Linked DNA regions of Homo sapiens. The protein of the gene in region 4 interacts with the protein of the main gene of each other region in a pairwise test. Each region holds a gene or a part of one and is shown on either strand. Other genes may lie near its edges.

What was found.
Region 1: the proteins of ELOVL4 (region 4) and SMCO4 interact in a two-hybrid assay, tested with the Homo sapiens proteins (one large-scale study listed by BioGRID).
Region 2: the proteins of ELOVL4 (region 4) and TMEM44 interact in binary tests that used the Homo sapiens proteins (3 or more experiments, as listed by UniProt).
Region 3: the proteins of ELOVL4 (region 4) and FAM177A1 interact in binary tests that used the Homo sapiens proteins (3 or more experiments, as listed by UniProt).
Region 5: the proteins of ELOVL4 (region 4) and INSIG2 interact in a two-hybrid assay, tested with the Homo sapiens proteins (one large-scale study listed by BioGRID).
Region 6: the proteins of ELOVL4 (region 4) and LPAR3 interact in a two-hybrid assay, tested with the Homo sapiens proteins (one large-scale study listed by BioGRID).
Region 7: the proteins of ELOVL4 (region 4) and CLCA4 interact in a two-hybrid assay, tested with the Homo sapiens proteins (one large-scale study listed by BioGRID).

Annotation. Positions count from the first base shown.
Region 1 is NC_000011.10:93,536,172-93,540,621, forward strand, and holds part of SMCO4 (single-pass membrane and coiled-coil domain-containing protein 4), read right to left. Parts: intron 1-4,450.
Region 2 is NC_000003.12:194,623,416-194,627,865, reverse strand, and holds part of TMEM44 (transmembrane protein 44), read left to right. Parts: intron 1-1,875; coding exon 1,876-1,969; intron 1,970-4,170; coding exon 4,171-4,337; intron 4,338-4,450.
Region 3 is NC_000014.9:35,048,925-35,053,374, reverse strand, and holds part of FAM177A1 (protein FAM177A1 isoform 1 precursor), read right to left. Parts: intron 98-4,450; coding exon 1-97.
Region 4 is NC_000006.12:79,936,840-79,941,289, forward strand, and holds part of ELOVL4 (very long chain fatty acid elongase 4), read right to left. Parts: intron 1-4,450. UniProt on the Homo sapiens protein: Catalyzes the first and rate-limiting reaction of the four reactions that constitute the long-chain fatty acids elongation cycle.
Region 5 is NC_000002.12:118,094,541-118,098,990, reverse strand, and holds part of INSIG2 (insulin-induced gene 2 protein), read right to left. Parts: intron 2,573-4,450; 5' UTR 2,435-2,572; coding exon 2,191-2,434; intron 1-2,190. UniProt on the Homo sapiens protein: Oxysterol-binding protein that mediates feedback control of cholesterol synthesis by controlling both endoplasmic reticulum to Golgi transport of SCAP and degradation of HMGCR.
Region 6 is NC_000001.11:84,812,757-84,817,206, forward strand, and holds part of LPAR3 (lysophosphatidic acid receptor 3), read right to left. Parts: intron 1,416-4,450; coding exon 1,090-1,415; 3' UTR 1-1,089. UniProt on the Homo sapiens protein: Receptor for lysophosphatidic acid (LPA), a mediator of diverse cellular activities. May play a role in the development of ovarian cancer. Seems to be coupled to the G(i)/G(o) and G(q) families of heteromeric G proteins.
Region 7 is NC_000001.11:86,553,344-86,557,793, reverse strand, and holds part of CLCA4 (calcium-activated chloride channel regulator 4 precursor), read right to left. Parts: intron 1-4,450. UniProt on the Homo sapiens protein: May be involved in mediating calcium-activated chloride conductance.

The DNA.
Region 1 (4,450 bases), on a different chromosome or scaffold from region 4:
GCCTACTGAACAATGATCCATTTCTTTCACCCAGGGGAATGGCAGCCCATTACCACTGACAACAGGAACTAGCACATCTCTTGAGAGCATAGTATGGGTACTGCTGCAACATTTTAAATGAATTTAACATTTGACATGCCAATTCTACTCCTAGAGAAACATGTGCATACTAATATGTATGAATGAAGATATAATAGCAAAACTAATGAGTTAGTTTATATGTCTACCAGTAGGGGACCAATTCATAAATTATGACATAACTACACTGGAAAATATTTTGTAGGCAAATAAAAGACAAATTAAAAGAACAGAGAAGAGCTACATGCATGAAAAGCTCTCGAAAATATACTATGTGAAAAAAGCAGTATGATGCAATCAGATTCATGCTTCTAAAAGAAGGAAAACCATAGTGTATTTGTGTATACAGGCTTGACAGTTTCAGGACACGGATCCAACTGCTAACACCAGTTATCTCTGAGGACCTGGAGGAGCTGGCACCTGGGGAGGGGTGCTGGGTGAAGGGGAATGTGACAAGTCTGCTGTGTCCTTCTGCACTATTTAAATGCAAGGGCAGGCTGCAGGAGAATACATTTACATATTACCTATATGATTTCAGAAAAAAAGCACCTAAACTGATTAAAAAACCACCACCACCAAAACAAGCTACTTATGCTGATGTGAAATTGCTGCACCAATTTGAACAGGTTTCTATGCTGCACTTCCAGGTCTTCCCAAGACTGACAAAGTTCAAGCCAATTTCTGCAGTACTGATGACAGACTGAATTGGGACTAACAAGGAAGAAGGAAAATGTGGGATGCAAGGAAAACATCTGTAAAAGCTCTGTGGAAGCTGCAAACCAGTCCTACCCTGAACCTGCTCATCACCAAAACTCACTAGTTCTGGGGCCTTCCTCCCTCTCATCCCTATAGGATGAGAAATAAGCCAAAACCGGAATCAAGAGAGAATTCCCTTTCCCACGGCAGAGGGAGGCCTCCACTGTCACCAGCAGAGCTGCTCCCAGGCAAAGCCAAAGAAACGGCCTGGCCAAACTCCACCTTCCTGACAAAGGCACCATGTGCCAGGCTCCTGGGATTGCAGGGACAGCCAAGACTGGCAGCCCTGAAGCCCACGCATTTGAGTCCCTCCACTTCGGCAAACAGCCCAGGAATCTTTTCACACTCACTACTGAAATCCAAACTGAACCAGTATACAAATCAGATGGTCCTGCCAACAAAACAGGAACAAAATGGAAAAAAGGGTGATAAATCAATGATATCCTGGCTAAATATATACTTCTTCTTTCTGCTTGCAGGGGCACTGCTATAGATTTAAACCTTTGATAAATATCTTTTTTGCTTCCCAGTAATAATTAAAGCAAACACACCCAAACACGCACCTAAACACGAAGCAAAAAGAACGAGAAAAGGGCTTTGCTCAGGACATAATGTTCAAGAGGTAGGCATGACAGCTCATATCCACAGGCAGAAATGCTCTTCTCCCATTAAAACATGTACCTGTCTGGCACGGGTTCTTACCCCACAAAAGAAACAACTGGACACTCTAGGGGACTGCCGAGAAGTGCCCTCAGAACAAGAAGAGGTTCCCTCTTTGAGGGAAAAGTGTAAACATCAAGCAGAAAGTGGGTGAGCAGACTCTTGCACGGAGTGACTCACCGGCAGAGACAGCTTGTTGCTGGAGATGCTGGGAGCAGGCAGGTCCAACAGAGGTAACCTGGCTTCCTCCTCGCAGCGAGAACACAGCCCAAATAAAGCCAGAATCTGACCACCTGACCTCCGGCCTGACCAGAGCCAGCACAAACTCTCAGAAGGGCAGGGATGTTGCACAATTTGGAAAAACGGAAGCCCAAAAGCAAGTTTATGACCACGTCTGGCACTGACTAGGGGAAAGGGCACAAAACCAGTATATTCCTGACATGGCAACAGTGCGTCCTACCGATGACAGGACATGCAGACCCCAGCCAATCATCTCCTTGGGCTCTGATGCCCGCTTCCCTGAGCATGGCTTGGCGCCCCGCAGAGACTGCACCCGTCAGAGGAGGCTGGCCTCGACTCCTCTTGGGGCTGGCCATTATGTTCACTGCCACTCCTGCTTCCCAGTCAACCCCTGCAAGTTTGGTGACCACAAGTTAACCCCATCTAGGGCAGATCAACTCTTATGGAATAGCCAAAACTGAGGACCAAACCCTGGTGGGTCCCCTGTGCCACCAGGGAAGAGGGGTGTGCAGACAATACCCCAGGAAGGCGTCTTCCCTTCCACACTTCTAACCTTGACTAGCATTTCCCAAAATGCAGTCTGAGGAATCCAACTTCATTCTCTGCGATGCTCCTGGAAAGTTAGGAATGATAAGGCTGGGGTGGCACAGGGAAGGGAAGGCCCTTTCGGACTGTGCTCAGCCACCTTTCTCTAGCTGTTAGCAGAGACCAAAGGAGGCACTTTTGGTTTCTGCAGAGATTGCTTTTAGCCTGCACATAGTCAGCATCTCCAACACCCATCCCTGGGGCATCAGACCTGAAATGGGAAGGGATGATGCAATTCTAGTATCCAAAGGCACTAAGCTCTATGGATTCCAACAAGCCCCCTCTTCTCCGCAACCACTGCCACTGTCTTAATGTCTTCTGTTCAGGCCCTCATCTCTCAAGACATTACTTTAATGAACTAGTTTCTCTACACCTAATTTCTACTTGCTTCACTTCAAAACTCCAGACAGCCACCGAGCTACCTTTCTAGAATACAGGCCTGACCCTCTCTGCCTACAGGACTAAGTCCCAACCCTGGCACAGCATGCAAGGCCCCTGCCTGCCTTTCCAGCTGGAAGCATGGGCTTTGGAGTCCTACAGATCATTGCAGTGACACTTAGATAAACCACTTGCTGGCTATGTGAACACACATGTGTTTCTGCACCCATTTCCACATCTGTGTGTTGGGAATAGCATGATCAGCCTCCCAGAGCTACTGTGAGGACCGAATCCAAGTTCTAAAGAGCCTAGATCTCACCAACCTAGCTCCAGGGTCCTCTCTCTTTCCCATCTTGCTATACCAGCTCTTCATAATCAATGAGAATTGACTCAAGGGTAAAAAAAAAAAAATACATGCAAGATCTAAAAATGAAGGGTCATAAATTTAAAAATTAGGCCACCACAATGTGAAAGAAACCAAAATTAACTCATTATCAAAATAATGTAGGAGGACGGAAGGAACAGGAAGAGAAGGAAAACAGTACATTTAGGAAGAAATGCTTTTAAAATATAAGTCTCTATGATGTTTTGAGCCTCATTTGCTCCAAAGATTTAGGAAGATGACATTTCAAAAGCTCACAAAGACGACACTTCTACTTTTTAAAAACTATTTCCTAATTATTATCTTCAGAGAACTAAGAAGTACTTTCACAGACTGAATGTTAATAAAATTCTCAGAGGAAATTCTGGCATCAGTCACAACAAACACCCTCTTGGAATTTAATTTCCTTTCAGCATACAATTTACTATGGAAACTCATTTGTGATGCCACCACAACCAGTCAAAATCTGCCTGGAGCACAAAAACTTCAGAGTCCCAAAAGAGGGCCTTAAAGGACTAGATGGAAATTGGTCCCATATTAAGCCAAATCCTGCATCTAACAGAAATTTCCCCCACACCAAACTAGCTTTGACCGTCAGCCAGCCCACTCCTCTCTCTAGCTGCCCTATACTATAGGCTCTTCCAGGGCCCCCTTCCAGCTAGAACCCCCTGAATTCTGTATCTTTTCCCTGTCCAACAAAATTAATTTAAAAAAAAAAAAAAGGAGGAAGGCCACAAAATGGGCAAAGGGAAACCAGCTACATCCATTTTCAACTTTCTATCAAAGACCTGTCCTTTCTGGCTTACGATTTTTTCAATTCCCTTGGACAAGACAATCACAGGCCCTGGAATATTCATTGCGCGTGCTGGGGCTTAGGGTGGGAAGGCAAAAAGGCTAGAAGAATCATTGATAAGTACAAAAAGTACTTTAAGCCTTTTCCCCCTGAGGACAACTGCTGAAAGACTTACTCAATCCCATTGACCCAAGTACCTGTGTGCAAGGGAAAGGAGTGGATGCCAATCTTTACTCAGCACCCACTGCAATTAGTGGGTACATTTCTTGAATATAAGACAGACAGTATTATCCTGATTTTACACATGTGGAAACCAGGCTCAGAGAGGTCAGGCAGCAGGTTCAGTATTTACACCCAGGCCTGCCAGACTCCCAAGACGCTTGAACTTAACCACTTCACCACACTGCTTCCAGAGTCTACAAGTGTTTATGTTAAAATGTGCTGGGTTAGGGAGCCCGTTAAGAGTTTACTTGTTGCTCTTCACATACAGTATCTCATTTAACTAGCACAACCCTGTAGGATAGCTGAGAATTCCTTTTCCACTGTTAACAAAATGGTACATGGATTGAAAGATCATC
Region 2 (4,450 bases), on a different chromosome or scaffold from region 4:
CTGGGATTACAGGCGCACGCCACCACACTGGCTAATTTTTTGTATTTTTAATAGAGATGGGGTTTCACCATGTTGCCCAGGCTGGTCTCGAACTCCTGACCTCAGGACAATCTGCCTGCCTCAGCCTCCCAATGTGCTAGGATTACAGGCCTGAGCCACCACGCCTGACCTGTTTATTACTTCTTGTATGTGAACTCCCATTAGAGTGTCAGCTCTACAAGGGCAAGGATTTGTTCACTGCTGTATCCCCATCACTTAAAACAGCACCTGGCTCCTAGTAGGTGCCCAATACATAGTCATTTAGAGCTTTGACCCAGCCCCAGCTTATGTAGGGTGGCTGAGTCCTTTCCCAGGTAGTGGTGTAGGCTTTGGGGCAAGTGAGAAGTAGTTTCAAGTTTCTCAAAAGCGTAGGCCCTCAAACCTGTGTGGAAGGCTCCTATCCCAAAACACATATCCCCAGGAAAACCTGTTGTGCCCTCCTGCGGAGGCACCTCATGGGACTGGTCTTGGTCTTATGCCCATCCAGGTAGAAATGAAGGAAGGCAGCTCAGTTGGCAGAGCACAGATTTGGAGCATTCTAGACCCTGCTTCAAGCAGTGTTGTCTCAAAAGCAAATCACCTTTCATTTTGGGTGCCCATTCTCATTAGCTAATAGAATACAATAGGGCCAGCTGGGCACAGTGGTTCATGCCTGCAATCCCAGCACTTTGGGAGGCTAAGGCGGGCAGATTGCCTGAGGTCAGGAGATCAAGACCAGCCTGGCCAACATGGAGAAAACTAGCTGGGCGTGGTGGCGCGTGCCTGTAGTCCCAGCTACTCAGCGGGCTGAGGCAGGAGAATCACTTGAACCTGGGAGGCGGAGGTTGCAGTAAGCCGAGATCGTGCCACTGCACTCCAGCCTGGGCAACAGCAAGACTTCGTCTCAAAAAAAAAAAAATACAGTAGGTCCCAGCTCAAGTCCAATAATAATATTTATTAAAAACTACCCTGTCTCTACTAAAAATACAAAAAAAAATTAGCCGGGCGTGGTGGCAGGCGCCTGAAGTCCCAGCTGCTCGGGAGGCTGAGGCAGGAGAATGGCGTGAACCCAGGAGGTGGAGCTTGCAGTGAGCCGAGATCACGCCACTGCACTCCAGCCTGGGTGACAGAGCGAGACTCCGTCTCAAAAAAAAAAAAAAAAAAAACTTAACTACATACTTGGCACTACAGACCGTTTTGTGTTGACTCCTGGAATCCCAGCATCCTATGACATGAGTGTCCTCATTATTCCTGTTCTACAGATGTAGAGACTGAAGCATAGAGAGGTTAAGGGTCACCCATCTAGTAAGTAGCAGTGCCAAGATTCCGCGATTCAAACTCCACAATGCAAGTTCTTCACCGCTAACTCTACTATCAGAGGAGCTGGTGCCTTTAGAGGTAGTTTGCTTTCCCATAGACACTGGTGTAAACACTGCCCATGTACTGTCTCAAGTAACCTTCCTGACAGTCTTTGAGGGAAGCACTGTTAGTTTGCTCGTTTTACAGATGGGGAAACTGAGCGCCAGAGAAGCTCAGTGGGCCAAGGGTACACAGCAGAGACTGCCTCACGCAGTGGGAAGTGTGTGGAATAGAGCTGGAGGGCTGGGCTCTTATCCCAACCCTGCTGGTGGGCATCTGCATACCGTGGGTTCAGTCATGTAAACACCTCATCTCCTCATCAGCCAAGTGGACATGATAATGGACTTTTCCGGGGTTGGCAGGAGGTGTCCCTGGAGGAGTACGTAAGAAAGCACCGCATCAGTGTAACCCATGTGATACAGGGTCCCGGATGACAAACTCTGTAGGGGCTGAGGAAAGATGCTTGAATGCCAAGACTCTCTTCCCGTTTGCTCCCAGGTTTTCACTGGTGCCTACCTAGCAGCTATTGACTTAGTGAACTTTATGTTCATTCTCTTCCCAGTCTGTGGATCCAAATTCAAGTCTAATTCAGGTGAGTGTGTGGCTGTCTTTTCCTGTCTTTATTCACCCATTCATTCATCAGCACGCCGAATGCCTACTCCTTATCACTCCCAGAGCGGGCCCCAGCCAGGCACAAACAAAGGAGAAAGGCTGGGCGCGGTGGCTCACGCCTGGAATCCCAGCACTTTGGGAGGCTGAGGTGGGCAGATCATGAGGTCAGGAGATCCAGACCATCCTGGCCAACATGGTGAAACCCCTGTCTCTACTGAAAATACAAAAACTAGCCGGGTGTGGTGGCGTGCGCCTGTAATTCCAGCTACTCGGGAAGCTGAGGCAGGAGAATCGCTTGAACCCAGGAGGCGGAGGTTGCAGTGAGCTGAGATCGCACCACTGCATTCCAGCCTGGCGACAGAGCAAGAGTCCGTCTCAACAAACCTGGTGACAGAGCGAGACTCCGTCTCAAAAAAAACAAAAAACAAAAACAACCCCCCCCCCCCAAAAAAGAAGGAGAGTGTCTCATTAGGGCTGCCAGCTTGGAGGTGTGTGCACACTGTGGGCAGCCAGAGGGAGGGAAGGGCTGCTGGTGTCAAGGAAGCATGGGGCACTAGAGCTGGGGCCACAGGCAGGGCACTCCAGGCACACAGAGCAGCATGGGCAAAGGCTAGGAGGAGGTGTGGAGCAGGGCATGGGCATGAGCAGTGATAGCTTAGTGTGCAAGTTCGGGGTGGTCAAGCGAAGCTTCACAGCTACTGGAAGTGGATGCCAGGAATGGGCACAGGGCACCACCACAGGCACAGCAGGGGTCGGAAATGACTGGGCCAGGATGAGTGGCCCCGAGTGTCTGTGGTTGCGGCTTCTTGAGAAGGGTCAGCCATGTGCTTGGGCCCTTGTTCAAAAAGAGGGGATGAGGGGGCCGGGCATGGTGGCCCACACCTGTAATCCCAGCACTTTGGGAGGCTGAGGCAAGCAGATCATTTTGAGGTCAGGAGTTCGAGACCAGCCTGGCCAACATGGTGAAACCCTGTCTCTACTAAAAAAATACAAAAATTAGCTGGATGTGGTGGCATGCACCTATAATCCCAGCTATTTGGGAGGCTGAAGCAGGAGAATTGCTTAAACCCGGGAACTGGAGGTTGCAGATCGCACAACTGCACTCCAACGTGGGCAACAAGAGCAAAACTCTGTCTCAAAAAAAAAAAGGGGATGAACCAAGTGGTGTGGTGGCTCATGCCTGTAATCCCAGCACTTCGGGAGGCTGAGTTGGGAAGATTGCTTGAGGCCAAAAGTTTGAGGCCAGCCTGGGCAACATAGCAAGACCCTATCTCTACAAACATTTTAAAAAGTAGCTGGGCATGATGGTGCATGCCTGTGGTCCCAGCTGTTTGGGAGACTGAGGTGGGAGGATCACTTGAGCCCAGGAGGTGGAGGCTGCAGTGAGCTGTGATTGTGCCACTGCACTCCAGCCTGGGTGACAGCGAGACCCTGTCTCAAAAATAATAAATGAATCAGAGGGGGTGCTGCAGCAGTGTGTAGTGAAGCATGCCCTCAGCGGCTCAATGCTGCCCAGAAGAGAAATGCTCTTCTTAGAGTTTCTCAGGAGAGAGCTGGGCAGTGGCTTACACCCGGAATCCCAGCCACTCATGAGGCCAAGGTGGGAGATCGCTTGAGCCCAGGAGTTCAAGTCCAGCCTGGGCAACCTAATGAGACCTCATCTCAAAAAGAAAAAATAAACAGAATTGCTCAGAGGAGTGCCTATCTTACAGTTCAGGGACAAAGACACTGCTCATTGCTGTTTGTCCCGCGCACAGTTCCCGCTGGTGCCATCGCTGATTCACGGGTCGATGCTTGTACCACACTTGTACCGGTTCTGCTCTGTGGAGATTGTAGAAACCACCAGAGGATGGTGCCTTATCCTTAGGCGCTCTAGTCCAGAAGAGGCACTGCTGTCTGCACGCAGATGCATAGAGAGAAGATAATGTCATCTCTGCCTGAGGAAGGAGGGCAGCACGTTATGGGGGTGGGGTGTGCAGTCAGTGGTGGAGAGGAAAGACTCCTTGAAGAGGTGGCACAACTACAGGGCCCTGAAGGGTGGGGAGGAGCTGGCCTGCAGAATAATGTGGGAACCCGCTTCAGCATCATGTGGGGAGCTGACACCAGTTCTTCCCACGCAGCTATCTGATCTGACAAGGTCTGGCTTCCAGGAGCCATGTGGGATTTTGGTGTCTGTTGCAGATCGGGAAGCCCGAGAGAGGAAGAGGAGGCGGCAGCTCAGGGCCAGTGTGTTTGCCCTGGCCCTGCCGCTGAGCCTGGGCCCGTGCTGGGCTCTGTGGGTTGCTGTCCCGAAGGCTTCAGCCACCATCCGGGGGCCACAGCGGAGGCTGCTAGCGAGCCTGCTGCAGGTGAGGCTGGGCCACCGTGGGGAGGACTCGGGGTACTGCATGTCCTGCCAAATGCCCAGGGTGGGATGAGGCCGGGGCTAGGGGAGTGGGGTTAAGCCTTCCTTTGTTGGAAG
Region 3 (4,450 bases), on a different chromosome or scaffold from region 4:
TTTCACCACTAACAAAGTGGATGACTCTCCTTGGGACTTTCTTCTTTTTTCCTATGACTCCCAGTTCTACATTTTCAAAGCCTCTTTCGTTACTCATCTATATCAACGATATTTTAAGAAAATGAGTTTCAAGTGAGATTAATTTTCTTTCATTACACGTGAAAAACTTTTGGTAGGTTTATTGTAGTAAAGAAATAAATCTTTAAGCAGTTTTGGTTTGTTCTGAGACATGGTCTCACTCTATTGCTCAGGCTGGAGTACAGTGTCAAGACTATGGCAGACCAAATAAAACCCACCATTTGTAAACCAAATCTGGAAAGCAGATTATCAGCATTGTATCTCTGAACTTCCAGATGTCTTGGCCAGTAATACATATGTAACAAAAGAGATTTCTGATAGTAAAAAGATTTCACAAGTTCTTAAACTTTAGTAGTCTATGGAATTTTTTTTTCCCCCAGACAGGGTCTGGCTGTTGCCTAGGCTGGAGAGCAGTAGTGCAATCACGGCTCACTGCAATCTCAAATTCCTGGCCTCAAGTGATCCTTCTGTGTCCACCTCCTGAGTACCTGGGACTATAGGAGCATGCCACCACACTTGGCTAATTTTTTTTTCTATAGGGACAGTGTCTGGCTATGTTGCCCAGGTTGGTCTCCAACTACTGGCCTTAAGCAATCCTCCCACTTCAGCCTCCCAAAGTTTTAGGATTACAGGCATACGTCACTGTGCCTGAGCTGGAATTCTAATACAAATTTTACTCCTATATATTTACACTATATATATCTATATATATAGTGGGAGATGGTGAAGAGCTTCTTTTCATTGTCCTCTTGCCTCAAGTTTAAACTCCTAATAAAACTGCCTGAAGTTGGGCCAGGCGCGGGCTCATACCTGTAATCCCAGCATTTTGGGAGGCCGAGGCAGGCGGATCACAAGGTCAGGAGATCGAGACCACGGTGAAACCCTGTCTCTACTAAAAATATAAAAAATTAGCTGGGCGCAGCAGCGGGTGCCTGTAGTCCCAACTACTCGGGAGGCTGAGGCAGAAGAATGGCATGAACCTGGAAGGCGCGCCACTGCACTCCAGTCTGGGCAACAGAGCAAGACTCCATCTCGGAAAAAAAAAAAGAAAACTGCCTGAAGTTTAAACTTCCAGATTTCAAAAAGGTACAGTACATACAATTGTGAAGAAAAATCTGGCAACAGTGGTTACCCCATGGGTAGAAACTAAGATGGGGGAGAAGCAGAAGGCAAGGGAGTAGTCAAAGGAGGGCTTTTATTCTTTTTGCATATACAGGACTACAGTAATGTCATGATTACAGTCTATGTTCGTAGAATTCTCTAGGATAGTCCAGAGTACAAACATTTTGTTCTCTATAAAGATTCTTGTGGTTATAAGCAAACATAATTTAAACCCATGACTGCTGTTCAACCACTGGAAAAGCTCTTTGAATTGCTATTGCAAAAAAAGGATTATACTGATAAAAACAGTGAACTGCCCAGTTATGCAAGTATAAGCTACTTTGTTTTTATACATTGTTTCATCTTAATCTTCTAAGGTCCTTCTTAGAAAACAGATATGATTCTTCTCTGCCTTTTACCTCCCAAAGGTAAGTTTAGTCATTAGCCAGGATTTGAACTGCAGATCATGAAAATTTGGTAACAGGCCAGCCGTGGTGGCTCATACCTGTAATCCTAGCACTTTGGGAGGCTGAGGCAGGAGGATCACATGAGGTGAGGAGTTCGAGACCAGGCTGGCCAACATGGCAAAACCCCAACTTTACTAAAAATACAAAAATCAGCTAGGCATGGTGGTACACGTATGTAATTTCAGCTACTTGGGAGGCTGAGGCATGAGAATCACTTGAACCCAGGAGGTGGATGTTGCAGTGAGCCGAGATCGCACCACTGCACTCAAGCCTGGGCAACAGAGCCAGACTGTCTCAAAAAAATAAAAATAAGGCTGGGTGCTGTGGCTCAGGCCTATAATGGCAGCAATTTGGGGGGCCAAGGCAAGATAACCTGATGTCAGGAGTTGGAGACCAGCCCGGCCAACATGGTGAAACCCTGTCTCCACTAAAAAAACAAAAATTAGCTGGGCGTGGTGGCACGCACCTGTAGTCCCAGCTACTCGGGAAGCTGAGGAATGAGAATCACTTAAACCCGGGAGGTGGCGGTTGCAGTGAGCTGAGATCGTGCCACTGCACTCCAGTCTGGGTCACACAGCGAGACTCCATCTCAAAAAATAAAAATAATAAACTATCTTAAAAAATAAAATTTGGTAACATAGGCTACCTATGTATTAACATGAAAAAAAGTCACAATTCTTTCTAGCCTGTCCTGAGGGTTCAAATAAATCCCAGCCCTTAACAAGGAAAGATCAGGTCATTTATTGTGTCCATGAAAAAAATAAACAAGTAGTTAACCCAGGACACTTTTCTTCTACCTACCCCCAAGCCCCACCAATCCCCAGGCACTGACAGCCATCCCTACCCAGTCTCATGTTTACCCTTGAGATAAAATTTGGCTATGGCTGTCCTGACATCAACGTTTCCTTTTGGACCATGACTCAGCTTTTTGGATCCCTTAATTTCCTATGCAAAGGAAAGACAGATGAGCTAAGTTAGATCTCCAGTCATCCTACTAACTGGATGGATCTAATGTCAATGCAACAGCTCCAGTCAGTGAATAGAGAGCTCAGATCCTTCACAGTATACCACCATGCCCCACCCTATCCCACCCCCAAGACAGTAGAGGCTTCTCACTGCTACCTCTAGCAATCTCTCATTGGCTTAATTTTTTCCTTCTATGACACAGGCAAAGGAAGGAATGTCAGTGCTCAAAAAGCTTCAGATTTTAGAGTATTTCAGATGAGGGATAATGATTCCAACCTCTATTTGGGAGGCGGGGTGGGGGGCAATGAAGGAAGCACTAACAGGTAAAACCAACCAGAAAATCATTTGATACAAAATTCCCAATAATTATATTTTTAAAATATTTTTCTTTTTTTATTTTTCAAACATCAACTTGAACCAGAAATCCAATAATTACAAATAAAATTTACACTGTGGCTGGGCATGGTGGCTCATGCTTGTAACCCCAGCACTTTGGGAGACTGAGGCGGGCAGACAACTTGAGGTCAAGGGTGTGAGACCACCCTGGCTAACATGGTGAAATCCCACCTCTACTAAAAAAATACAAAAATTAGCCAGGCGCGGTGGAGCGTGCCTATAATCCCAGCTACACAGGAGGCTGAGGCAGGAGAATTGCTTGAACCCGGGAGGTGGAGGTTGCAGCGAGCCGAGATCGCGCCATGAACTTCAGCCTGGGCAACAGAGTGAGATTCTGTCTCAAAAAACAAAAAAAGTTACACTGTGAATTTTCCAAATGCTTCATTTTATAAATCTGCAAGTAAGAAAAATTTCACTGCCAATTATGCAAATTCCATAACGAACCCCAAAGATCTGAAAGATAGTTTCATAACACCAGGAAATTATGAGGTACCATGTCAATTAACATTTTACTCCATTTTATAGTTAACCAAACTATAAATGTGCTTATCTTTATTCTCAGGATCTGTTTTTTTCTTTTTTGAAAAGGAGTCTTGCTCTGTCATCCAGGCTGGAATGCAGTGGTGCGATCTTGGCTCACTGCAACCTCTACCTCCTGGGTTTCAGCGATTCTCCTGCCTCAGCCTCCCGAGTAGCTGGGACTACAGGCGTGAGCCATAATGCCCAGCTAATTTTTCTATTTTTAGTAGAGATGAGGGTTTCATCACGTTGGCCAGGCTGGTCTCGAACTCCTGACCTCAAGTGATCCACTGGCCTCAGCCTTCCAAAGTGCTGGGATTATAGGTGTGAGCCACTCTGCCCAGCTCAGGATCTGGTTTTAATGGCAATTTTTTGTATATACTCCCATGGCACCCAGACTTCTTTAAAACACATACTAGACTTAGAATTTATTCTTTGTCATCTTCCCCAACTAGGCTATTAGCAACATGGGGGTAGGTACTGCTATATCTTTCAGCCTAGAGTTCCTGGCACATAGTAAGTGCTTGGTAACAGAGGTACCAAATAAATCAATCACTGAGTGGTACTGAAATTTTAACTCCTTTAAAAACATTGAGGCTGAGATTCTGGTTAAAAGTCTATTCAGAGAAGCTGCTGGATAGAATGTCACAACAGGAGGCCGGGTGCGGTGGCTCACACCTGTAATCCCAGCACTTTGGGAGGCCAAGGCAGCAGGTGGATCACAAGGTCAGGACTTCAAGACCAGCCTGACCAAGATGGTGAAACCCCACCTCTACTAAAAATACAAAAATTAGCCAGATGTGGTTGCGTGCGCCTGTAGTCCTAGCTACTCAGGAGGCTGAGGCAAGAGAATTGCGTGAACCCGGGAGGTGGAGGTTGCAGTGAGCCAAGATCATGCCACTGCACTCCAGCCTGGGCCACAG
Region 4 (4,450 bases):
ACTCTAGAAACAAACAGATCCTGAAGGTGGTGGGTGAAGAATAGCATGATCAGTTTCCTGTATAGTCAGCATGATTAGCAGGGAAAATTTCTGTTCTAACCCCTATGTACTCAAAAAAGAGGATGGAAGGTTTGAGTTTGGAAGAGCACCTGGATGAATGGGAGGAAAGGGTAGCTTTTGCAGAATGCAGGGGTAGATAAGGCAGAGGCTGGGCTAAAAAATGGCAAAGAAGTCAGAATGTGATGGGCAGACAGGAGGGAACAGAGACCTTCACCAGTGAAAGAGGGGAAAGCTGCAATGTCTCAAGGTATGAGGGAGCAGGTGCCCTGAGAGTCATTCAGCACAGGGTTAAAACAAGATGTCTCCTCTAACTCAGTTCTATAACAGTTACCCAAGAGCCTGAAAGAATGGAGGACAGAGTTAAAAAGCAGAGGGAAAAAGAATTTTCATTGCAAGTTTGCCTGAATAGAGATCATAATAATGGTAGAAAGTGAGAGAAATTATAAAATTTCCTAGAGCAAGCAAAAAATAAGAACAGATTCAGAAGCTGTAAAGGAGAAAAGACAGTTAACACAGATGAGAGAATCAATGTGTGATTCGAGCTGAAGGCTGGTTACCCTGGGATTTAATTTGACAGGGTTAGTATTAGATGAATCAGGTTCAGGGAAAGTCAGTTTACTCACCTGGAAAATGGGGATAATAACGGTACCGAGCCCAATGGAATATGAGGACTAAATGTGATAATACATATAAAACACTGGACACAGTGCCTGACACTTAGTAAGCATCCAATAAATGTTCACTATTATTACTGGGCAATAAAATGGTATTTATTGAATAAATAAGTAGGCTATGTTGCATTATAAAAAGGTCACTGTTGGGAAGGAGAAAGATCTTGATCCTATTCCAACTCTGTTACTTTCTAGCTATGTAGCTTTGAGTCTATTTCTTCATCTATAGATGGTTAAATAATATCTAACTTATAGAGATGATCTGAAAATTAAATATAAGGTGTATCAAATACAGTACTACAGCATCTTAAAATGGTCCTATACTAAATGCTCAATAAATGGTAGTGAGTTTCATCATGTGCAGACGATATCTGGTTTCAAATTCCTGACCTCAATGATCCACCCGCCTCGGCCTCCCAAAGTGCTGGGATTACAGGCGTGAGCCACCATGCCCAAGTGCAGGTGATGTCCAAATTCATGACTTCAGAAAATGGCCTATTCATAAAAGCCAGTTCATAAGGGAAAAGGAGACAATTTCAAGGGAGAAAATATATCTCGAGAGAGAGAGCTGAAGAATGTTGCCTCGTTTCCTGGAAGCCAAGATCAGAATACAAGTAGTTTCCTTCTCTCCTTGTTTCCAATTTTGCTGGGCTTCTCAGAAAAAGTAGTCATAAAACTTAATCTGGGAGTTCCAAGTTCAACCATCCACCCAATGCTGCCAATGAACTCAAAGCTTTAAGAAAATTGAAATGGTGTTTCCCTTTAGCAAAAAAGATGGAAGATACCATTAGAGTGTGTGAGTGTGTGAGTTAATGGGAACTTTAGCCAAAATCTTCCCTTGACTCTAACAGTTCTATAAGTTGAATAGCCACTGGGTAAAATACGGTTAGTCCTGAATGAATTTCATTATCCTTTCACTAACAAGTTTCTAGCTCTTGTATTATGCAATTTGGCAAATACTTTCATAATTCACTTTGAATACACTTTTTTTAAACAATCCTACACCGTCATATGGAAGTTAACCATCTTCTCAGGCTAAATATCGCATTTTGTATTCTACATATATTCACATATTTGTGTATGTATATAGTATATGAATAAATATCACTTTGTAGTTTAATCTCATACACCAGCCTTTATAGCACCTTTGAATATTTAGATGTCTTTCTTTAGATGATCTTTGGTAATATTATGACTTTGTTCAGATTTAGTATTCTAAACAGTGATACTCTGTAGATAACAATAAAAGAAAAGGTAAAATAAAAGAGAAACACAGATTACAGGCCTGATTATTTCTTTCTTGCTTGGCTAGTGTGACGGGAAGACAAGAGCACTGGGCTAGGGACAAAACAACCCATGCACATTCATTTGCACTATAGTGACCACCTACAAAAGTTACGTAACTTCTGTAAATCTCAAAGACTTCTAAATATATGGAAAAAATGCCTTCAAGGCCTATCTCCCAGAGTTATTGTGAAGTTGTTTGTAAAACCATAAAGCAAAATACAAAGCTAAAGTTTTCTTTCTTGTTATTTGCTACTTTCTAGCCACTCGGATTTTTTTTAAGCCAACAGCTATATAGTCTCTTTATAAAGTCATTTTACTTTAAATTGAAAAAATAAAGAAGAATTGACTGTTTTACCATTGAGCACTAAAGAGATCATTTCTACAGGTGCTAATGTATTAATTTTATAATATATGAAATTCTTGCATTGCGGTAAAAAGAAAAGCACATAACATAAAATATACCATCTTAATCATTTTTAAGTGTACAGTCCAGTATCATTAAGCATATCCACATTGTTGTGACTCTCTGGAACTTTTCTATCTTGAAAAACTGAAACTCTATACCTATTAAACAAGTCATCAGTTCTCCTTCTCCCCAGGCCCTAGCAAACATCTTTCTACTTTCTGTTTCTATTAATTTGACTACTTTATTTATTTATTTATTTATTTATTTATTTATTTATTGGGCCAGGATCTTACTCTGTCACCCAGGCTGGAGTGCAGTGGCACAATTATGGTTCACTGAAGCCTTCACCTCCCAGGTTCAAGTGATCCTTCTCCCTCAGCCTTCTCAATAGCTGAGACTAGAGGCATATGGCACCAGGCCTGGCTAATTTTTAATATTTTTTTGTTGCTCATGTTGGTCTTGAACTCCTGGGCTCAAGTGATCCTTGAGCCTCCACCTCCCAAAGTGCTAGCATTATAGGCATGAGCCACTGGGCCCAGCCCGAATTTGACTACAGTAGAGGGTCCATATAAGTGGAACCATAATGCCACATACATAATTATCTTTTTGTGACTAGACTATTTCACTTAGTAACAAGGTTCATCTATGTTGTAGCACATGTCAGAATTTCTTTCCTTTTTAAGACTGAATAATATTCCATTGTATGTATATACCACGTTGCGTTTATCCATTTATCCAACACTGGACATCTGGGTCGTTTCCACCTCTTAACTACTGTGAATAATGCTGCTATGTACGTGTGTGAAAAAATATATAAAATTAGTTAAAAACACACATCTGTGCTCAAGTTTTTGTTTGATAAGTGAATAAAAATGAAAACAGAAAAGCTTGTTTCTTGGAATTCTGCAGTTCAAAATCACAAATGCTTTTATGTGATTATACCTGACAGTGAGTAACTGATTTCCTCAGTGGACTAATGCATTTGTCTTTCAAATTCCAAAAATTTTACTCTAATACAATATAATCATAAATAAAACATCATTCTAAGGTATTTGTTTACAAATGGTAATATTTCATGAAGAAAAATATATGGCAAAAGATTTTAAAAATTTGTATTTTGATTAGTTAAGGAACATACTTATACCAAAACCATTTAGTTTCTTTTGTTTTCTCTTCTGTAAGACCTACACATTTTTATCAATTTTACAAAAATCTTAAGCCATACTTCCAAACTTAAGTAAAAAATGCTCATATATAAAGTGTTTATAATAGAAAATCATTTGTAATGATGTATGTTAAAATTTCACATTTTCTATTGGAAAAATATGAAGACTGAGTTTAGACTGATATCTAGGCTGCTGTTTTAGGAGATGTTATAAGGATTCAATAAACTAAGCCTTAAAGGTTATGTAGTTCAACCCTCTCACAGCACAGGTAGAAATAAGAGACCCAAAGAGTCATGAATAACTTGCCTAAAACGACATAATATGCCATCCTCAAAAGCTGAGTATCACAAAATAAATGTAATATATAATTGAGATAATTTTATTCTTTAATATTATTGCTACTGTTTTCGATAAAATAGTTGGCTCTTGGTTATTCAAGGAATCCAGATAATTAAACAGGTATAGTGTTACAGCAACAAAAGCAATGTTATTTCAAAACAGACGCTTAAATATCTGTATACTTTTGTTGCTCTATTCCTCTACCTATTTCTTATAAAGCAAATTTTAAAAAGTAAAAAGAACTAAATAAGAATCTGTTATTTGTACTATTTAGGCAGTGTTGATAACAGTTTTGCTGGAAAAAAATTTTATTTACTATAAAGAATGAGGTTTCTGAATCCCTGATAAATGTATATTTATTTGAAATTGCTTTACCTATTCCAAGAATAAAGAAAGTGATATCTATATCTAGACTTTTAGAGTCAGGTAGGACCTTACAGATTACCTAATTTAACCCTCTTAATTTACAGAGAACAATGCTGAGAATTGGGAAGGCAAAGGAACTTGTCCAAACTCTCATA
Region 5 (4,450 bases), on a different chromosome or scaffold from region 4:
CTACTAAACACCATGACTTAACTAACAAAATTGGTAGCAGAATTGGCTGGAATCTAGATTTCCTAATGTCTCTCTACTTTCTTTTGCCCAAGTACCTTATGGTACAAACTGCTTTCAGAAGAAATACTTAAGCAAGAAATGTAAATGCAAATTCCCCAAATGAGGTTAAGTTTGTAAGTGTGACAAACCTAGTGGCTGGGAACAGGAAGGAAAGTAGTGGCTGAACTGTGGTATTAGCATTTGAAATTTTCCTTCCTAAAATGTAAGTTTATGGCAAAAGTGCTGACATTAAAGGGGCAGAAGGACAAGACAGCAGGTGCAGCCCTGTTACTCTTCATAGTGGAGGTACAATGAAACCTCAGTTAAGTTCTCCTGCCCCAGCCCAAATGCACAACACACGCCAGGGAATTCCATCTAGGTCTGGCACCCAGTCTGGAGGCTTGAAAAGTGGCATCCTGAGTAGGGGGAAAAGTGTGAGTAGCTTCCTTTTCCCTTCCCCAGCATGTGACATGTGGACCCAGTCACACCACTCACTGGCTCTGGGACCCTGGGCTCACTGGTTTTCTTTCTTCATCTCAGTGAGTGTCCTCATCTCCCCATAACAGGCACAATGCCAAACATCTCTCTCCCAAAGTTGCTCTACAGAACCCTGGGATTACAGGATGTACCTAGCACATTAGCAGACATTCAATAAACAACAGTTTCCCTTCCCTCTGTTCTATCCTGAAAAGACATGTATGCTCTTCCATGTCCCAAAAAGCTTCTACTGGCAGCCAGACTATACTATAGAAGAAAAGAAACAAAGAACTAGAAAAGTTGTTGAGAAAACGTTTTCTCTTCTGAATTTAAATGAAAGAAAAATGCATGAGGACCAGTACATACAGCAGAGTGATACAATTTAATTTGTTTTTTATTTGGACTATTTTTTGCCTTTTCTCTTGGAGAATGATAACCCTGGGAAACTAAGAATCACTGCCTTCATGACTTCACTTTTAATGTGAACGATGTAATAGTGAGACATCAGTATATAAACACTGAAGCCTTACTACAACAGTGCCCCTCTAACTGTGCAACAGGATTCTATAATTGTCCAGCAAGTTTCACAAGGCCATTCTAACACTTCCGTAAAGCGCAACCTCATCCTTCAACCTCCCGCTCTTGGATGGAAGCCAAGAAGGACATATATTATGTTGCAAGATATTCATTCATATATGTTAAGTATGAGACACCAAATGGGTATTTAAAAAGCAATTTTCTCCTTCAATCAGAATTATCTTCTACCACATGATTATGGTTTCCTTTTATTACTTTATTATTAAAAACAGTATTAATCTATTGGTCTTGGTCATTAGAAAACACTAAAGTGCTATCCATTGTGGAAGTATGGCAGCAATAAAGTATTGTGAAATGCTCTACTCTATGCATTACACACTGCCCACCACCAAAAAAATATCTAAAGTAACTAATAGGATACTAATTTTAAGCAAAGAGAGTCTACCTTATAGATGTCTTTAAATATTTATTATTCTAAGGTACTTATAAAAACAAGATACCAAGGAAAAAAGCATTTACAAAAATACAACATGAAGCTTTAAACTTTAATTATTCAAGTTTTTATTACTTCAGAAACAAGACTACAGCACATGCATCAAACCCTTAAAACCAAATGGTGGTGCTCATCATCCAAATAACTTAAAATAACACTTAGATGAGATGGGTTGAAGAAAGAACAAAATTAAGGGGTTAAATGCTTCATCCCTAAGGGAAACAGGATTGTTTTTCAGAATTAAATGTTAAAAGTTTACAGGACAGATAGAATGAGACAGAAGGGAGTACATACGTTATGAGCCCATTTATATTGCATTCTAGAACAGAGATAAATAATTTATGGCAACAGAAAGCAGATCAGTGGTAGCCTGAGGCTGGGGGTGGGGAATGGACTGCAAGAGGACACGAGAGACTCTGGAGGGTGATGGAAATGTTCCACAGCTGGATTGGCAGTGGTCATGTGACTGTACGCATTTGCCTAAACACATCAAGTTGTTCAATTCAAACGGGTCCAGTGTATTATACCTAAATTATATCTCAATAAATATATTTTCTTTTTTAAAAAGGTTTATTGCTCAGACAACGTCCATACTCATTTACCCTATTTCCTTTCTAAGCATTACAGAAACATCCTACACATACCTGAAGCCGTGCCACAGCATGGGGGTACCCACCATGCAGAAGAAAAGATGCTTGCAATCACATCAGGTGGAAAGAGCGTCACATTTCTCTGAATCTGAAGTAAATTTAACACTAATGCAAGAAATACTCCAATAAAAAATAGCACTACTCCTCGAATCATCAAGTTCACACTCTGGCTAGTGACAGATGAAATATATGGGCCACACTTTTTGGGCCCAGGTGACTCTGTCTCTCCTTCTGCCATGGTTTCATAGGTTCAGAAAGCCGTTAAAAAAAAAAAAATGGAAAGGCTTCCCAGCTGAAAAGCTCAACTGTCTGTGAATCAAAGACTGACGCTTCAACGGTACCACATCTTGTCCTAAAGTAGGACCTACCAGAAATCCTGCAAGAGATAAGAAAAAAGAAATTAATGTGTATCTAATACATGATTATTGTAATTTTACTGATTTCAATACTAGTTAATTTAAATGGACAAATAAGAAAATGACAAGCTTGTATACTAATTTATTCAAATTACTAACAGTTATTTATTGAATAAGAAAAAGTTTTAAAAGTATTTTTATATGCAAGACGTAATAAAAAATAAAGTACTACCCTTACATTTCCTAGGACAGAAAACATGACCTAAGAGACCTGAAGGTTAGAATCATAGTAGAAACAGCTTGCTCCATCTCTGAGAAAAGCAGAACAGGTAATCTGACACTTCCACTAGAATCTGGAGGGTAAAACCCTGCTCTCTGTTTCTTCTCCCTAAATCTCTAAGCCTATCAGTTACAATACTGTATTTTATATTTTACAGATAAGCATATTCTGACTGAAGACGCTGTATATTTTGCAATAAAATGTTACTTGCTTACAAGGACAACCTCCACAGAAGAACAAAATAACCCGCTTTAATGTTTATTATTTGGTTATCCGCACAAAAACATTCTACAAAACCAGACCACCACGCACACACCTACATATACACCAAACACAGAAACCAGACCTGACTCACTCTCCCCAGGGGCACAACTGTATCCCACTCCTGTCTCAACAGTCTGCCCTTGTTGCAATCACAGAAGGGATTGTAAGAAAGCTGGAGGACGAAGCAAAAGAAAGGAAGTGAAGAAAATGAAGAACAATCTAATGGCTAGATTCTAAGGAGTTTTATCCACTTGGTCCCTGACTCCTAAAACCTAAAACTTTGCTACTACAATCAGTCTAGGTACTTGTTCATTCCTCTAACCAAAGTGATCTTTCCTTTTGGGGCTTTCTATGTGCTGTTTTAAGCACCTGACATGTGGTAATTCATTTAATCCTCACAATAACCTTCAGAGGTAAGTGCAATTATTATGTACATTTTATAGGTGACGCAAAAAAGCAAAGAAAGGTTAAGTCACTTGACCTAGTTCACATCTCCAGTAAGAGGCCAAGCTGGGATTCAAAACCATGCAGTCTGACTCCAAAGCCCTCATTCTTACCATGATGTTCAGTCTCCCAAACTGTCACATATTTGATATGTTTTCTATGAATACTAACAGTTTTTAAATGGGAAAAATACTACACAGGTAATTTACTTTTATCCCATCCAACAATATATCTTTGGCACTTTCATAAATCGGTACAGAAATGATATTTCCTTCAATCCAAAAGCAGTTTATTTTAAAAAGTGTAGCACTTATAATGACTACTTTCTAATTAAAGGTATAGTTGCTTTATGGATTGTAAATGTTTTATGAAGGTCTTATTCACTATTATATTAATATCACTGTGCCTATGCACCCAGAAAAGTTCCTGCTTAGCCCACAGTGGGAGCTCCACATAATCATATTTGCTTAATTAAATTGGGTTAACTCTTTCTGAATCAAACCATATAGGGTAAAGTAGGCCTTTTTGAGAGCAAACCTAGCTCCTAATCATCACATAAAATTTATACATTTCCTCTGAGTTTTCCAGTATCAAACAACCTTTGAATGAATTTTGGAACAAAGCCCTCATGTAAACCGCAGAGAATGGGGCTGAATTACAAATAACTAGTATGAAAATGAGAATATCTGTAAGTACTAGTAACCTCCACAACCTGTCAGTTCCATGTGATAAACACTTAGACAACGGGCCTTTTTACTGGGGCTATGCCACATCAAAGCTCTGTGTTCAACATTCAAGAGGAAATTCTGTTCCCAAGCTAGTCCTCACTGACCTACTTAGTCTATAATGTAATTGAACTCTATGGCTTAAAGGACTAAAAAAACTAATCCACAGTATAGCTAATTCATGG
Region 6 (4,450 bases), on a different chromosome or scaffold from region 4:
TCTTTGGTCCTCTTATTCCTCTGTCCTTTTGCTGGGTTTTCTCTACCTGCTCCTTAAACGTTGGTGTTCTCTTGGCTTCTTTTGCTCTTACTAGGCAAGATTATCAGCTGGATGTTCCATAGGCACTTCAAACTTCACATTCTCTTCTCCTTGTTTTCTGCATAAACCCTTTACTAGCTCTCCACTGTTTTTCACCATCATGAGGGAAAATGAGAACTAATGTGGACTGGCGGGAGGCAGTCTGGGGCGGTAACCCCGTATCTGAAATACTCCAGGGATCCATGTTTCTTTCAATAGTCAGATTAAGCATTCCCCAATCCAATCCCCAGATATCTTTGAACAAAATCAATAAAAATCAGTAAAAACAGGAATATATATATATATATATATATATATATATATAGACACACACACACACACACACACACATGCATATACACACACATGCATGGAGGACCATACTAAGGCCTTTTTCAGGTCAAAAAGGGTTTTCACATTGACCTTTTTTACTTTTAAGTATTTTTCCTCAGAATGTTCCTTCAGTTAAAAATCAGGTTTAATCTGGAGCTCTTACTGATTTTTCTTTGATTCCTACTGAACACCTAGCTACTGGCCATGGTTTCTTTGAGGAAAAAAACACCATTGCTGAAGCATTTCTAAACATTTTTAATGCATGCAGAAAGAACTACATAGACTCTCCAAGCAGCTATATAAGGTGGCTCAAGTAACATTATGATTTATTTTGGTCTAAGCCCTTTCATAACGTCCTTTTAAAATACAAAGAGAATGGCTACGAAATGGTGCCAGAACCCAGAAGGCCCAGCTGGACTGACAGGAGCTCTGAGCAGTTCATAGGACAAGCAGGGACCCGCCGAACCTCTCCCGTTTCTGTGCTTTCTCTAAATGCAGCAGGTCCTCTCTTTACTGCCCATGCTTTTAAACTATGAAAAAAAATTTTTTAAAGAAATCTAGCAGTGATTAATGGAGACCTCAAATAACACTGTACATGGGCTTTGTTAGAGACAGGTAATCATTCTTAACAGCTCTTTTCCCAGAGGAGGCCTGGGTGGGCCGAGAGGCATCCAGAGTTTAGGAAGTGCTTTTATTGCAGACTGCACCTTGGCTAATACTATCCTCTATGTACTGGCTGCCTGTGTCACTCCTGCTGAGGACTGTGGAGGGGATGCGAGAGGGACGCCTCTCTGGGTTCTCCTGAGAGAAGCAGCAGATCATCTTCTTCATGGTGCCATACATGTCCTCGTCCTTGTAGGAGTAGATGATGGGGTTCACGACGGAGTTGAGCAGCGCCAGCAGCAGGAACCACCTTTTCACATGCTGCACGCCACACTGCCTGCAGTTCAGGCCGTCGAGGAGCAGAACCACCAGGCCCGGGGTCCAGCATACCACAAACGCCCCTGCAAGGAGAGAAGAGGAGGCAACAGATGCTCAGACCTTAGGGGACTTATTCAGGTTTTCTTCTCTCCCAGCCTTTAGCCAGTGGCATCAAGGGGCCCTCATGATTTGTTTTGACAACTGCAAGGCAAACTTCCACCTACCATCTGAGCATTTGAGACCTACGCTTGGTACAGGCAAATAGGTGGGAACCTCCTTGACTATCAATCACATTTCATTTCACTTTCTTTTCTGCTTACCCAGGTCTTGTGATTATGAGAGACTCACATTTACATTCTGCTTAGGAGGCAGTGCACATGCATGATCTCCGTTAGTTCTCTGAACCACACTGGGAGGCTTTGTTGCACTCATTATCCACATTGGACAGATAAGAAAACCAAGGCCCAATTCTAGGGGGAGATGAGAGGAGAACTCTCTGACTCCAGGGCTCCCATACTTCACCCTACATTCTGCTGTTACAGAAATCAGATTTTCTAAATGTGCTCTTGAAAATAAGACACAATGAGTCTACGGCATTCTTCTAGTAGTTTAACCAAATCACCTGCTCATAAATTTCATTCTTCATAAATTCATGTGGATGCTTAGTAAGCACTATATTCTTTTTGACATATTCACGGGCCATCTGCATAATCATCTGCTCTACATTTAGATTTTTTGGTCAGAAATAAATCTTTCATGATGAGATAGTTAAAAATCTACTTTTCAGACTCTGCAATTGAATATGAACCGTAGTCTCTTCTGAGTCTCTAGCCACAGCATCATACTTACCTTATCTCTAAATTTCATGATATTTTTCTCCCATTAAGACATGGGTCCACTATTTCCCTACTATTATCATAACCTCAGATAGCAATAACGACTCATCTTTATACAGCACTTACTATAAGCGAGGCACTGGTGCAAACGCTTTCCTTGATTAACTCACAGGACCACACTATGACATTGGCATTATTATTATCCCCAGGAAACCGAGGCACAAGAGAAGTTAAGTAACTTGCCTATGATCAAATAACTCTTAAGAGACACGATTTTGAACAGAGGCCGTCTTTCTCCACAGGCTGTGCCCTGGGCCACTATATGACCCGCCTCTGTAGTATGATGTGGTTGCTTTCGGCGAATGTCCTTGTCATTTCTAAATGCACTTGCTTGTCCACTCATAAATATTCATCTGAAGCTAACAATGTGCCAGGAGCTGTACTAGACAGTGAGTGAGGTGAAGGCCACGCACTCAGGGAGCTAAAATACTAACAGAGAAGACGACAAACAAGCAAGTCTATAGATGATATCACCAACTACTCTACTTGTTAGAATTAGTTCTGCATAGTATTTCTCTTGTTGCTTTATCTTACTTCTAAGAGATATAATACCAAGCAGGGAAAGACAAGGATTATAAAGAGGCAGTGTAAGGCAGGGAAGAGCCACGAACTTTGGGGTCAGACATGTATGCACAGCTCAACCTATGAGTGACCCGAATTATGGGAATTACTTCACTTTTCTCAGCCTCCATTCCCTCCTTTATACAATAAAGTTAATAAACCCAACTATGTGAGGTGGTAGTTGTGAGGATCAGAGGTCATGGAAAGTGGTACCCAACACTGTGGTGGGTTCACTGAGCAGCAGTTATCATGAGGTGCTCTGTTTCCACAAAAAATATCTATATGTTTAGTAGCTAGCAGGGGGGTTGAATTCCTTATTTCATAATTACGGTTCAGCAGTGGTTCCCTTTTTTCTCCACCTTGTATTATTATTTTCGGTCTGGCTGATATATGTGAATAAAGAACTGGACTTGGAGATAAGAGATCAGAGATTTGGGTTCTAATTCTTCACTTACTGTACAACTCTGGGAGACCCATGTCATTGCGCTGGGCTCAGCTTCCTCAGCTGTAAACTGAGGACTGACTTTAGGCTAGGTCTGAGTTTTTCTAGTGGTGGGTCAGAACTTGTTAGTGGGTGTGCAATCAATGTGACAGATTCAGACTGGTTTTTTGTTTTATTCAGACTGGTTTGAAACAAGTGAAGGAACTGGATGGGCAGCCAAGTTTGCAACTACCAACTTGAGAATTCATATTAGTAAGTTTTTAGCCATACCACCCGATAATTGTGTCTGAGAAACAAACAAGTCAAATTTGTTTGAGTTTTATGGAGAGTTAAAAGCCACAGTTTCACAGAATTCGGCAGTTTCCTACTTGGAAAAGAGTTCAGAAGCCGCTTAGCCTGATCTTTCATTCATAGGAAAAAGGCCTTCCCTTTGTACATCTCAGAACAATCCAGGCAAAGGAAATGCCCTGGTCAAGGGAGGCTCTTCAACTGCTGAACAATGGTTTCTTCTCTTAAATAACTTCATTTAGGCTGGGCGTGGTGGCTCACATCTATAATTCCAGCACTTTGGGAGGCTGAGGTGGGTGGATCACCCAGGTCAGGAGTTCGAGACCAGCCTGGCCAACATGGTGAAACCCTGTCTCTACTAAAATGCAAAAAATTAGCTGGGCATGGTGGCAGGCACCTGTAGTCCCAGCTGCTTGGAAGACTGAGGCAGGAGGATTGTTTGAACCCAGGAGGCGAAGTTGCAGTGAACCGAGATTGTGCCACTGCACTCCAGCCTGGGCAATAGAGCAAGACTCCATCTCCAAAAAAGTAAAAAGCAAAAAAATATATAAATATCTTCATTTACTTGAAAAGAAGGCTTGCATCCAAACTCTGCCTGTTGTACTCTTCCATTTGTTTTGTGTGATCCTCTGCAATAGCCCAGGAAAAGTCTGTGCTTTCTCTATGTGATGCCCTTCAGGTTTTTGAAGACAGTTAACGCTTTCTGTCTTTCTTTAGCCTTTTCTCCAGGAGACACATATTGAATTTTATCTACTAGTTCCCAGATGCGTACCTCTGGACACTCATTCATATTTGTTAATGCTGAGAATTTTTTTTTTAAAGTAATCTGGGCATCACACAAACTCTTCTTTGAACCCTGCTGGTTCCCAGCAGTCATAGTCTGAGCATTGAGGCTAAATACTCAAAAGACATTCCTTTTAGTTTTTTTCTT
Region 7 (4,450 bases), on a different chromosome or scaffold from region 4:
AACTTCATTGAGGCAGAAAATTAACAAAGATATTCAGGACCTGAACTCAACATTGGACCAAATGGATCCGATAGACCTATACAGAACTCTCCACCCCATAACAACAGAATATACATTCTTCTCATCACCACATGGCACATACTCTAAACTCAACCACATAATTGGACATAAAACAATTCTCAGCAAATGCAAAAGAACTGAAATCATACTAAACACATTCACAAACCACAGCACAATAAAAATAGAATTCAAGAGTAAGAACATCACTAAAAACCATGCAATTACATGGAAATTAAACAACATGCTCCCGAATGACTTTTGTTTTGGTAAATAATAAAATTAAAGCAGAAATCAAGATGTTCTTCAAAACTAATAAGAACAAATATACAACATACCAGAATCCCTGGGACACAGCTAAGACAGTTTTAAGAGGGAAATTTATAGCATTAAATACCCACATCAAAAAGTTAGAAAGATCCGAAATTAACAACCTAACATTACAACTGAAGGAATTAGAGGAGCAAGAACAAATCAACCCCAAAGCTAGCAGAAGACCAGAAATAATCAAAATCAGAGCTGAACTGAAGGAAAATGAGAAAATGAGACACAAAAAACCACTCAAAAGATCAACAAATCCAGGATCTAATTTTTGAAAAAATTTATAAGCTATATATGCCACTAGCTACCAGCTAGACTAATAAATAAGAAAAGAGAGAAGGTCCAAATAAACAGGATTGGAAATAATGAAGGGAATGTTAATGCTGACCCCTCAGAAATAAAAATAACCATCAGAAACTACTATGAACACCTCTAAAGACACAAACTAGAAAACCTAGAAGAGATGGATAAATTCCTGGACCCATACATCTCCCAAGACTGAATCAGGAAGAAATTGATTCCCTGAACAGACCAATAACAAGTTCCTAAACTGAATTAGTAATAAAGAGCCTACAAACAACAAACAAACAAACAAAGCCCAGGATCTTATGGATTCACAGCCAAATTCTACCAGATGTACAAAGAAGAGCTTGTACCATTCCTACTGAAACTATTCCAAAAATTTGAGGAGGGAGGGATCCTCTCCAACTCATTCTATGAGGCCAGTATCAATCTGATATGAAAACCTGACAGAGACCCAACAAAAAAAGAAAACTTCAGGCCAATATCCTTTATGAACATTGATGCAAAAATTCTCAACAAAATACTGGCAAACCGAATCCAGCAGCTCACCAAAAAGCAAATCCACCATGATCAAGTAAGCATCATCTCCAGGACGCAAGATTGATTCAACATACACAAATCAATAAAAGTGATTCATCACATAAACAGGACTAAAGACAAAAACCACATGATTATCTCAGGAGATGGAGAAAAGGTTTTCAATATAATTCAACACCACAATAACGTAGGTATTGAAGGAAAATACCTCAAAATAATGAGAGCCATCTATGACAAACCCATAGCCAACATTATACTGAATGGGCAAAAGCTGGAAGCATTCTCTTTGAAAACTGGCACAAGACAAGGATGCTGTCTCTCACCACTCCTATTCAACTTAATATTGGAAGTCCTGGCCAGAGCAATCAGGCAAGAGAAATAAATAAAGGGCATCCAAATAGGAAGAGAGGGAGTCAAACTATCCCTCTTTGATTATGACATAATTCTATATCTAGAAAACCCCATAGTCTCAGCCCAAAAGCTCCCTCAGCTGATGAATAGCTTCAGCAAAGTTTCAGCATACAAAATCAATGTACAAAAATCACTAGCCTTCCTCTACACCAATGACAGCTAAGTCCAGAGCTGAATCGAATAGGCAATACCATTCACAATTGCCACAAAAAGAATAAAATACCTAGGAATACAGCTAACCAGGGAGGTGAAACATTCCTACAATGAGAATTACAAAACACTGCTCAAAGAAATTGTGTCAGAGAAGACACAAACTAATGGAAAACATCCCATGCTCATCGATAGGAAGAATCAATATCACTAAAATGGTTATATTGCCCAAAGCAATTTATAGATTCATTGCTATTCCTATCAAACTAGCAACAACATTTTTCACACCACTAGAAAAAAACTATTTTAAAATTCATATGGAATAAAAAAGAGCCTGAACAGCCAAGGCAATCTTAAGCAAAAAGAACAAAACTGGAGGCATCATGTTACCTGATTTCAAACTACACTACAGGGATGCAGTAACCCAAAGAGCATGGTACTGGTATAAAAACAGGCCTAGACCAACAGAACACAACAGAGAGCCCAGAAATAAGGCTGCACATCCACCACCATCTAATCTTCAACAAAGCTGACAAAAACAAGCAATGGGGAAAAGATTCCCTATTAAATCAATGGTGCTGGGATAACTGGCTAACCATATGCAGATTGAAGCTGGATCCCTTCCTTACACCATGTATAAAAATCAACTCAAGATTAAGATTAAAGACTTAAATGTAAAACTGAAAACTATAAAAACCCTAGAAGACAGCCTAGGCAATACATCCTGGACATAGGCAAAGATTTTATAACAAAGATGCCTAAAACAATTGCAACAAAAGCAAAAATTGACAAGTGGAATCTAATTAAACTTAAGAGCTTGTGCACAGCAAAAGGAACTATCAACAGAGTAAACAGACAACCTACAGAATAGAAGAAAATATTTGCAAATTATGCGTCCAACACCGGTCTAATATCCAGCATTTAAAAGGAATGTAAACAAATTTACAAGAGAAAAACAAACAATGCATTAAAAAGTGGGCAAAGGACATGAACAGATGCATTTCAAAAGAAGATAGACATGTGGCCAACAAGCAAGTGAAAAAAAGCTCAGTATCACTGATCATTAAAGAAACACACACACAAAAAAACCCACCATGAGATATCATCTCATACCAGTTAGAATGGCTATTATTAAAAAGTAAAAAAAAAAAAAACCAGATGCTTGCGAGGTTGAGGAGAAAAGGGAACACTTATACATTGTTGATGGGAGTGTAAATTAGTTCAACCACTGTGGAAAGCAATATGGTGATTCCTCAAAGAGCTAAAAGCAGAACTACCATTCAACCCAGCAATCCCATTACTGGATATACACTCAGAGGAATATAAATCATTCCACCAGAAAGACACACATGCACTTGAATGTTTGTAGCAGCACTATTCACAATAGCAAAGACATGGAATCAACCTAAATGCCCATCAATAACAGATTGGATTAAAAATTGTGGTACAGGGCCGGGCATGGTGGCTCACACCTGTAATCCCAGCACCTTGGGAGGCCGCGGTGGGCAGATCACTTCGGGTCAGGAGTTCGAGACCAGCCTGTGCAACATGGTGAAACCCCATCTCTACTAAAAATACAAAAATTAGCTGGGCATGGTGACAGAGGGAGACTCTGTCTCAAAACAAACAAACAAACAAAAACTGTGGTACATATACACCATGGAATACTACACAGCCATAAAAAAGAATGAGATCATGTCTTTTGCGGGAACATGGGTGGAGCTGTAGGCTATTATCCTTAGCAAACTAACACAGGAATAGAAACCCAAATACTACATGTTCTCACTTATAATGGGAGGTAAATGATGAGAACTCATGAACACAAAGAAGAGAACAAGAGACACTGGGGTCTACTTGAGAGTGGGGGTGGAGGTTGGGAGGAAGGAGAGGAACAGAAAGATAATATTGGGTACTAGGCTTAATACCTGGTGATGAAGTAATCTGTACAACAAACCCCCATGGCATGAGTTTACCTATGCAACAAACCTTCACATGTACCCCTGAACCCAAAATAAAAGTTAAAAAAGAAAAGAAAAGAAGACACTATGGGTCATACATTGACACACAAACTTTTTTTTTTGGACAGAGTCTTGCTCTGTCTCCCAGGCTGGAGTTCAATGTCTCAATCTTGGCTTACTGCAACCTCCGCCTCCCGGGTTCAAGCGATTCTCCTGCCTCGACCTCTCGAGTAGCTGGAATTACAGGCGCCTGCCACTGGGCCCAGCTAATTTTTGTATTTTTTAGTAGAGAGAGGGTTTCGCAATGTTGGCCAGGCTGGTCTCGAACTCCTGACCTCAGGTGATCCACCCGCCTCAGCCTCCCAAAGTGCTGGGATTACAGACGTGAGTCACCATGCCCGGGCCGACACATAAGCTTTTTATGGGAAGTAAAACTATGGCTAGTTTCCTAAGCAGAGTTGATTGTTTTAAAAGGGTAAAGGCCCCGCGCTGGCGGGCGCTCCTCCCTGAGCGGCGGGAAGCAGGCGGCAGCGGCGGTGGCGTCGGCTGAGCAGAGGACCCAGCGGGCAGACTCGCGGGTCGGACAGGATCGTCGTGACAAAGGCTTCGACAGCTTGCTGGAATAGAGGATCTCTGCTGCCTCGCCTCTTCTGTGGCCTTCGTGTGGGATGCACGAGACGGCAGGACCCAGATAACCGTTCTCTCAAAGACAC